2 linked regions of the Homo sapiens genome follow. The protein of the gene in region 1 purifies or fractionates together with the protein of each later gene. This does not show direct contact. Each region holds a gene or a part of one and is shown on either strand. Other genes may lie near its edges.

Region 1 (4,140 bases):
TCCCCTGAGCTCAGTCTGGTCCTTGGGGGTGATCCTGGGGGCACCCATCACGCCCACGCCCTTTCCGTACCTTAACAGGTGTAGGCAGGGTGTTGTGTGTCTCCCAGGGGCCGTGCAGAATCTCCTAACCCGAGAGAGGAAGAGCAGGGTTCCAGGTGGACACTGGGATCCCTGGACCCTGCCCCGCCCACCCCACTGCCTCTAGGGACAGAAGAGGGGCTGGGGGAGGGAGGTTGGGGACCATGCCCAGACACAGCCAATGAGGAGGTCCTGATGGAGAGGCAGGGCTGAAGGAGAGGGCGCAGGAGAGAGACTCAGACGAGAGGGGGCCATCTGCCCGGGGAAAGGGCCTCTCCAAGCGCAGGGCTGTACGTATGCACCACTGGCAACAGCTACCCTGCTGTTGTTAATCCTAAGCCATCGCTTCTTCCCTGGAACTTTAAGGGACAAACTCAGAACTGCAGTGTGGGTAGGGTTGGAGGGAGGGAGCGTCTCTGTGGTTCTCCAAGGGGACCTCACCTCTCCCACCCACCCCAAGGTTGGTCAGTCTGAATGGTGCAGCCAGGCGGGGACCTGGCAGAAGGCATCTGAAAAGCATGTGCTTTTACAAACACAGGGTTGCCCACCGTCCCGTACGTCCCATGCACGCCTCTCTCAGCCTCTGACCTAATTGTCCTCTTGTGGGGTGGGGGAGGCCAATATTTGGGAAAAGGGGCAGCATCCTGGTGCACGTAGGACGCTGGCACCTGTCTGGCAGTGCCTAAATGAAAGTACTGCTTTTCCAATGTGGGATAATTCCTTTTTTTTTTTTTTTTTTTTTGAGACAGAGTCTCACTCTGTCACCCAGGCTGGAGTGCAGTGGCGCGATCTTGGCTCACCGCAACCTCCGCCTCCTGGGTTCAAGTGATTCTGCTGCCTTAGCGTGCCGAGTAACTGGGATGACAGGTGCCCGCCGCCACACTCGGCTAATTTTGGTATTTTTAGTAGAGACGGGGTTTCACTATGTTGGCCAGGCTGGTCTCAAACCCCTGACCTCAAGTGATCCACCCACCTCGGCCTCCCAAAGTGCTGGGATTACAGGCGTCTGTCACCGCCGTAAACACAAAATATGCTACTATCTGGCGCTGCTTGCCAAAGTCAAGTGGGCTATGCAAGGAGGAACGGAACGGGAAGGAGAGATTGAACGGCGCAGTCAGGTGCACCTGCTTCCCCACGGGCTTCAGCTCCTCAGCGGTTTTCACTTAGGGCTCTCGCGCTTCAGACTTCTCATCCACGTTACGTAAAGATAACAACATGGGAAGAAACAACCACACACACACACACACACACAGACACACACACAGACACACACACACACACACACACAAACCCTTTTCTTTTTGGGAACAGAGCCACGTGACCATGGTTCCCCTTTATAGAAATGGGACCTAAAGCGCCACAGCAGGCCTTGTTGTGTGTGGCCTGAAATTCCCAGAGCAGCTCCCTCTGCCTTTTCTCAGCTTTTTAGGGGACAGATCTGACAAGACCCAAGGAATTGGGGTTTCTAAGCGGACCTGTACAAATGAGGTCTGAGGTGGCCGTGAGACCCGGGTCTGGGGTCTCCCTGGCACCGAGGGGGTGACGAGGGGCCACCGTGCTCATCCAGGCACCCATAGGGCTTTAAAACCCGTTTAATTTATGCTTACTCTTCCATTATTGGAACGCTAAGCATTTGGGAGTTATTTATATCCCACGGCTCAAGGTCATCGCCAAGGTCTCATTGCAAACATTGAAAAAACTGCAATCTCAGGCGTAAATGGGTTACGTGCAGCAGCCGCAGCTGCTTACCCTCTCTAAGGTTAACCTCAAGAGAGGCGCATTTCATGGAATGAGTTTTTTTTTGTTTTTTTTTTTCTAAACAGAGTCTCGCTCTGTCGCCCAGGCTGGAGTGCAGTGGCGTGATCTCTGCTCACTGCAAGCTCCACCTCCAGGGATCATGCCATTCTCCTGCCTCAGCCTCCCGAGTAGCTGGGACCGCAGGCGCCCACCACCAAGCCCAGCTAATTTTTGTATTTTTAGTAGAGACGGGGTTTCACCGTGTTAGCCAGGATGGTCTCGAACTCCTGACCTCAGATGATCCACCCACCTCGGTCCCCCAAAGTGCTGGGATTACAGGCACCTGCCACCACGCCTGGCTAATTTTTGTATTTTTAGTAGAGACGGGGTTTCACCGTGTTAGCCAGGATGGTCTCGAACTCCTGACCTCGTGATCCGCCCACCTCGGCCTCTGAAAGTTCATGGAATGAGTTATTAAAGGAAGGGTGGCTTGCAGCCCTGGAAAATTTGAGCATTTCTCCCCTAAGTGACGAAGCGGCTGTGCAAAGTCTTCCTCCCAGGAAATTTGCACTCCTGGTCTGCTCTAGCGTGAGGAGAACACGCCTCATGGAGTTTGCACCGTCTTCCCCCATGTTCTCACCGTACACGGACCCTCCCAGCGACCCTGTCTTCTCCCTTGACAGTGCAGGACAAGCATAAAAGTCCAGCTCGGCGGCTCACCTGTGCAGAAGCAGCGGCAGAAGTAGCAGGTGAGAGCTCAGAGGGTCTCCAGGTAACAGGATGCAACGCTTAAGTCGACGGCCGTGCCTCAGAGCCCGGGACTCGGGGGGCCAGCCACCAGCTTGCAAGCCGTGGTCACTCAAAGTGCTTGAGAAGGTGTTCGTGGGCGGCAGACGGCTGCCCTTCCAGTTCCATCTGTCCAGCAACCTTGCAAAGGCGGCCGCTTCGCTGGGTGGCCCACCGGCTGGCACGACTGTCTCCGAATGCAAATTCTGCAAACTCCACCTCCCAGCGCACCACCACGGTTGCGACTCAGGCTTAGGTGGAAAGGAAGTGTGTTGTGACATTTCCTCTGTAACTGTCTGAACACTCATGTGCAGGGCTGAGCCCACTGGAGTAACGTCGCTGTGTCTCTGGGCAGCACCGTTAACCGCCCACCTCCCTATCACTGGCTCGCAGGGGGCCCTACTCTTAAGAGAACCCTGAGAGTGAGGAAAAGAGGGAGAATGATTTTTCTAAATTTTGTAACCAGCAGTGAAGAGCCGTGGCATGCTCCAGAACCGATTCCTGTTTCTTCTGAAATAACAAAACAAAACAAAGAAAGAACAGAACACGTTTCCTTTTAGACTCTAAAGCTGTGCTCATTGCGACATCTCTTGGTACACAGCCAGACTGTGACAAGCGAACAGACCTTGGGCACTGATCATTCCGGCTCTCACAGTTGGTCACGGGCGCTGCAGGCTCATATCCTCAACATCCCATGGGGGATCGGCCAGTTTCAGGAATGAGAACCAGGTTTCCGAGCTCTGGTATCCTTGCTTGTGAGGAGCAACGGTTGGTTCTTGTCACTCGTGGGAGGAGGTTGAGAGGGAAGGATCTGTCACTGAGAAAGAATGAATGAATATTGAACCACTGCTCAGGGAAAAGACATGGTAGAATCAATCCCTCAAGCCAGGCTGGGTGTGGTGGCTCACGCCTGTAGTCCCAGCACTTTGGGAGGCCAAGGCGGGTGGATCACTTCAGGTCAGGAGTTTGAGACCAGCCTGGCCAACATGGCGAAATCCCGTCCCTACTAAAAACACAAAAATTAGCTGGGTGTGGTGGTGGACACCTGTAGTCCCAGCTACTGGGGAGGCTGAGGCAGGAGAATCACTTGAACCTGGGAGGTGGAGGTTGCAGTGAGCCAAGATCAGGCCATTGCACTCCAGTCTGGGTGACAGTGAGACTGTCCCAAAAAACAAACAAACAAACAAAAAGACCAGGCCTGCTGGCTCACGCCTATAATCCCAGCACTTTGGGAGGCCAAGGCGGGTGGATCACTTGAGGTCAGGAGTTCGAGACCAGCCTGGCCAACATAGCGAAATCCCGTCCCTACTAAAAATACAAAAATTAGCTGGGCATGGTGGTGGATGCCTGTAATCCTAGCTACTGGGGAGGCTGAGGCAGGAGAATCACTTGAACCCGGGAGCTGGAGGTTGCAGTGAGCCAAGATCAGGCCATTGCACTCCAGCCTGGGTAACAGAGTGAGACTGTCTCAAAAAAAAAAAAAAAGTCGAGGCCTGGTGGCTCACACCTGTATTCCCAGCACTTTGAGGTGCCAAGGTG
Region 2 (2,998 bases), on another chromosome or scaffold:
ACCCGTTCTGAGTCATTTTCCTCTTCCTCGTATTTCTTTAGCATCCAAGGGGCATAGCTGTGTCTCTTTCTCTTTTCTCCTTTTCCTCTGTCTCTTCTCACCTTTAATTTCCAAATAGGTAACTCAGGTATTAGTGTCCCTGATGGTTTGCCAACCCGTGTGACATCTCTTGTCCATGTATCCACAGTTGCTGGAAGTGCAGGTGCGGGAATCTCTGGCAAAGTCCAGCCAGGTGGCCATTGAGGCTCTGTCGGCCATGCCTACAGTTCGAAGCTTTGCCAACGAGGAGGGCGAAGCCCAGAAGTTTAGGGAAAAGCTGCAAGAAATAAAGACACTCAACCAGAAGGAGGCTGTGGCCTATGCAGTCAACTCCTGGACCACTAGTGTGAGCACCTGAAGATGAATACCCATTCCCTTGTCCTTAAGATGCCGTGACTCCATTCCCATTCCTATGACCCTGCTCCCACTCCTCCTTTACTGGGAAATGGTTGGTTCAGTATTTTCGTCCTAGCAACCTGAGGCTCAATGACTCTACTCAGTGTCCCTAGCCCCCTCCCTCTCTTTAAAGATGCTAGGTGGCTTCCTTTCAGTATGGTACATAAAATCCACCCAACCATGTGGATTGGAGAGATGCGTGTCTTCCAGTCCTAGGGCCTTCCTTTGCCTCTCAGGGGAAGTGCAGGGCGCCATAAATTCTTGCACCTGGGACTGCTTCATGCTGGTACCTTGTAGATTTGTTAGTGAGAGTGATGGGAATAGTGGAAGCCAGGGATGAGGGACATCTGTGATGCACTGGAAAGAGAGCTACGCCAGTGATCCGAAGATCCTGGCTTGATGATGCAATTTACTTGTCTTGTGATCATGACAACAAATTTACCTTCTCTGAGACTGTTTCCTCTTTATTTATTTATTTGTTTGTTTGTTTGTTTATTTTTACTTATTATTATTATTTTTGAGCTGGAGTCTCGCTTTGTCGCCCAGGCTGGAGTGCAGTGGCGCGATCTGGGCTCACTGCAAGCTCCGCCTCCCGGGTTCACGCCGTTCTCCCGCCTCAGCCTCCTGAGTAGCTGGGACTACAGGCACCCGCCACCACGCCCGGCTAATTTTTTTTTTTTTTTTGTATTTTTAGTAGAGACGAGGTTTCTCCGTGTTAGCCAGGATGGTCTCAATCTCCTGACCTTGTGATCCGCCCACTTCGGCCTCCCAAAGTGCTGGAATTGCAGGCATGAGCCACTGCGCCCGACTGGTTGTTTCCTCATTTTTCAAAAATGGAGTGATATAACCTTCTTTATAAGGCTCTTCATGTATTAGCTGACATCACATGAATGAAAGCCTTTTGTGAAGAGTAAAATGCTCCCCAGACAAGGTGATAGTGGTGATGGTGGTGAAGATAACTGTGACTTGCATGATGTGCATTGAGTCAGACTCCATGGGGTCTCTGGTTCATTCTCCTGTCTGCCTATTGAGCCTGCCGATGTCACTTAGGAGACAGGGACTTGATATTTCCTTCAGGTTAATGACTGCGGTTCTTTGTGTCCCCTCCAGATTTCTCTACCTCAGTCCCTTTTTTTGTGGTCTCTTTATAGATTTCAGGTATGCTGCTGAAAGTGGGAATCCTCTACATTGGTGGGCAGCTGGTGACCAGTGGGGCTGTAAGCAGTGGGAACCTTGTCACATTTGTTCTCTACCAGATGCAGTTCACCCAGGCTGTGGAGGTGAGGTCCCTCCACCTTCACTCCCCAGTGTGATTCCTTCCTCTGGCCCAGCACCATCTGTGTGATGTCCTTCCATTCTTTACCCTTCTTGCTTCACATAATGCTGGCAAGCAGACTACCTCACTTTCACTATTCTTACCTCCCTCTAGGTACTGCTCTCCATCTACCCCAGAGTACAGAAGGCTGTGGGCTCCTCAGAGAAAATATTTGAGTACCTGGACCGCACCCCTCGCTGCCCACCCAGTGGTCTGTTGACTCCCTTACACTTGGAGGGCCTTGTCCAGTTCCAAGATGTCTCCTTTGCCTACCCAAACCGCCCAGATGTCTTAGTGCTACAGGTACAACCTACCACTCCCTGTATTCCACTGGCCCCAACTGCAATTCTGCCATCCTAAATTTTCTTCCTGCCTTCAGCCTGCTTACTGCCAAGCATATATCCTCCCTAACCCTTTAAAGGCAATGGTAGGCATCATCTGTTCCATAAATCTTCCCCAAACTCAAGAACCCAGTTTGGGCTTCCAAAGAGAATGAGAGAAGAGGTTTCGAAGAGAGTGCTCTCACGTTCCAAGGAATTGCTGCAGCAAAATCTGTGTCTTCGGTCTTCCATCTTTCCTTTTCCTTTGTAATTTGGAATGTGATTTTTCCCTTTCCTGGTGGTATCTGACATCAAGTGTGTGGCATAGTGGTGCTGGGTCTCTGCCCTTGTCTTTGCCGCTTCTTCTATCTCTACTCCTTGGGGAGGCATCACCCAGAAATCTGTGCATGTGGGAGGGTAGGAGTTTCTATATTTCCCTGTTTTTCTTCTGGGGTAAGACATCATGCTATGTAACAAGGCAATGACACTCTCAAGGTTAGAGGCCTTGGTAGCCTCTTATCGTGTGCTTCTCTGGCCTCTAGGGGCTGACATTCACCCTACGCCCTGGCGAGGTGACGGCGCTGGTGGGACCCAATGGGTCTGGGAAGAGCACAGTGGCTGCCCTGCTGCAGAATCTGTACCAGCCCACCGGGGGACAGCTGCTGTTGGATGGGAAGCCCCTTCCCCAATATGAGCACCGCTACCTGCACAGGCAGGTATGGAAGCAGGTGGCTTGAAGGAGGGCAGGGAGCATCAAATACGAAGAGCATTCTTACTGAGCACTCTGAAAGAGGGGTTAGGGAATGATAAGAGACCTTGGGTGGAGATGGTGGTGTAGTCAGGAGGGAGGTAGTATGATTTTGTGACATGTTCTCAATAAAGATTTTGAGTCTTCGATCTCTAGATAACCATACTCCCATGTGCCTTG

The links. The genes of interacting proteins can lie anywhere in the genome.
Region 2: the proteins of P2RY8 (region 1) and TAP1 purify together in Homo sapiens (co-immunoprecipitation; 2 studies listed by BioGRID and IntAct, with this or other methods). This does not show direct contact.

Annotation. Positions count from the first base shown.
Region 1 is NC_000023.11:1,534,386-1,538,525, forward strand, and holds the start of P2RY8 (S-geranylgeranyl-glutathione receptor P2RY8), read right to left. Parts: upstream 2,801-4,140; 5' UTR 2,536-2,800; intron 1-2,535. UniProt on the Homo sapiens protein: G protein-coupled receptor for S-geranylgeranyl-glutathione (GGG), an endogenous metabolite present in lymphoid tissues.
Region 2 is NC_000006.12:32,847,707-32,850,704, reverse strand, and holds part of TAP1 (antigen peptide transporter 1), read left to right. Parts: intron 1-187; coding exon 188-385; intron 386-1,586; coding exon 1,587-1,715; intron 1,716-1,864; coding exon 1,865-2,053; intron 2,054-2,612; coding exon 2,613-2,786; intron 2,787-2,998. UniProt on the Homo sapiens protein: ABC transporter associated with antigen processing. In complex with TAP2 mediates unidirectional translocation of peptide antigens from cytosol to endoplasmic reticulum (ER) for loading onto MHC class I (MHCI) molecules.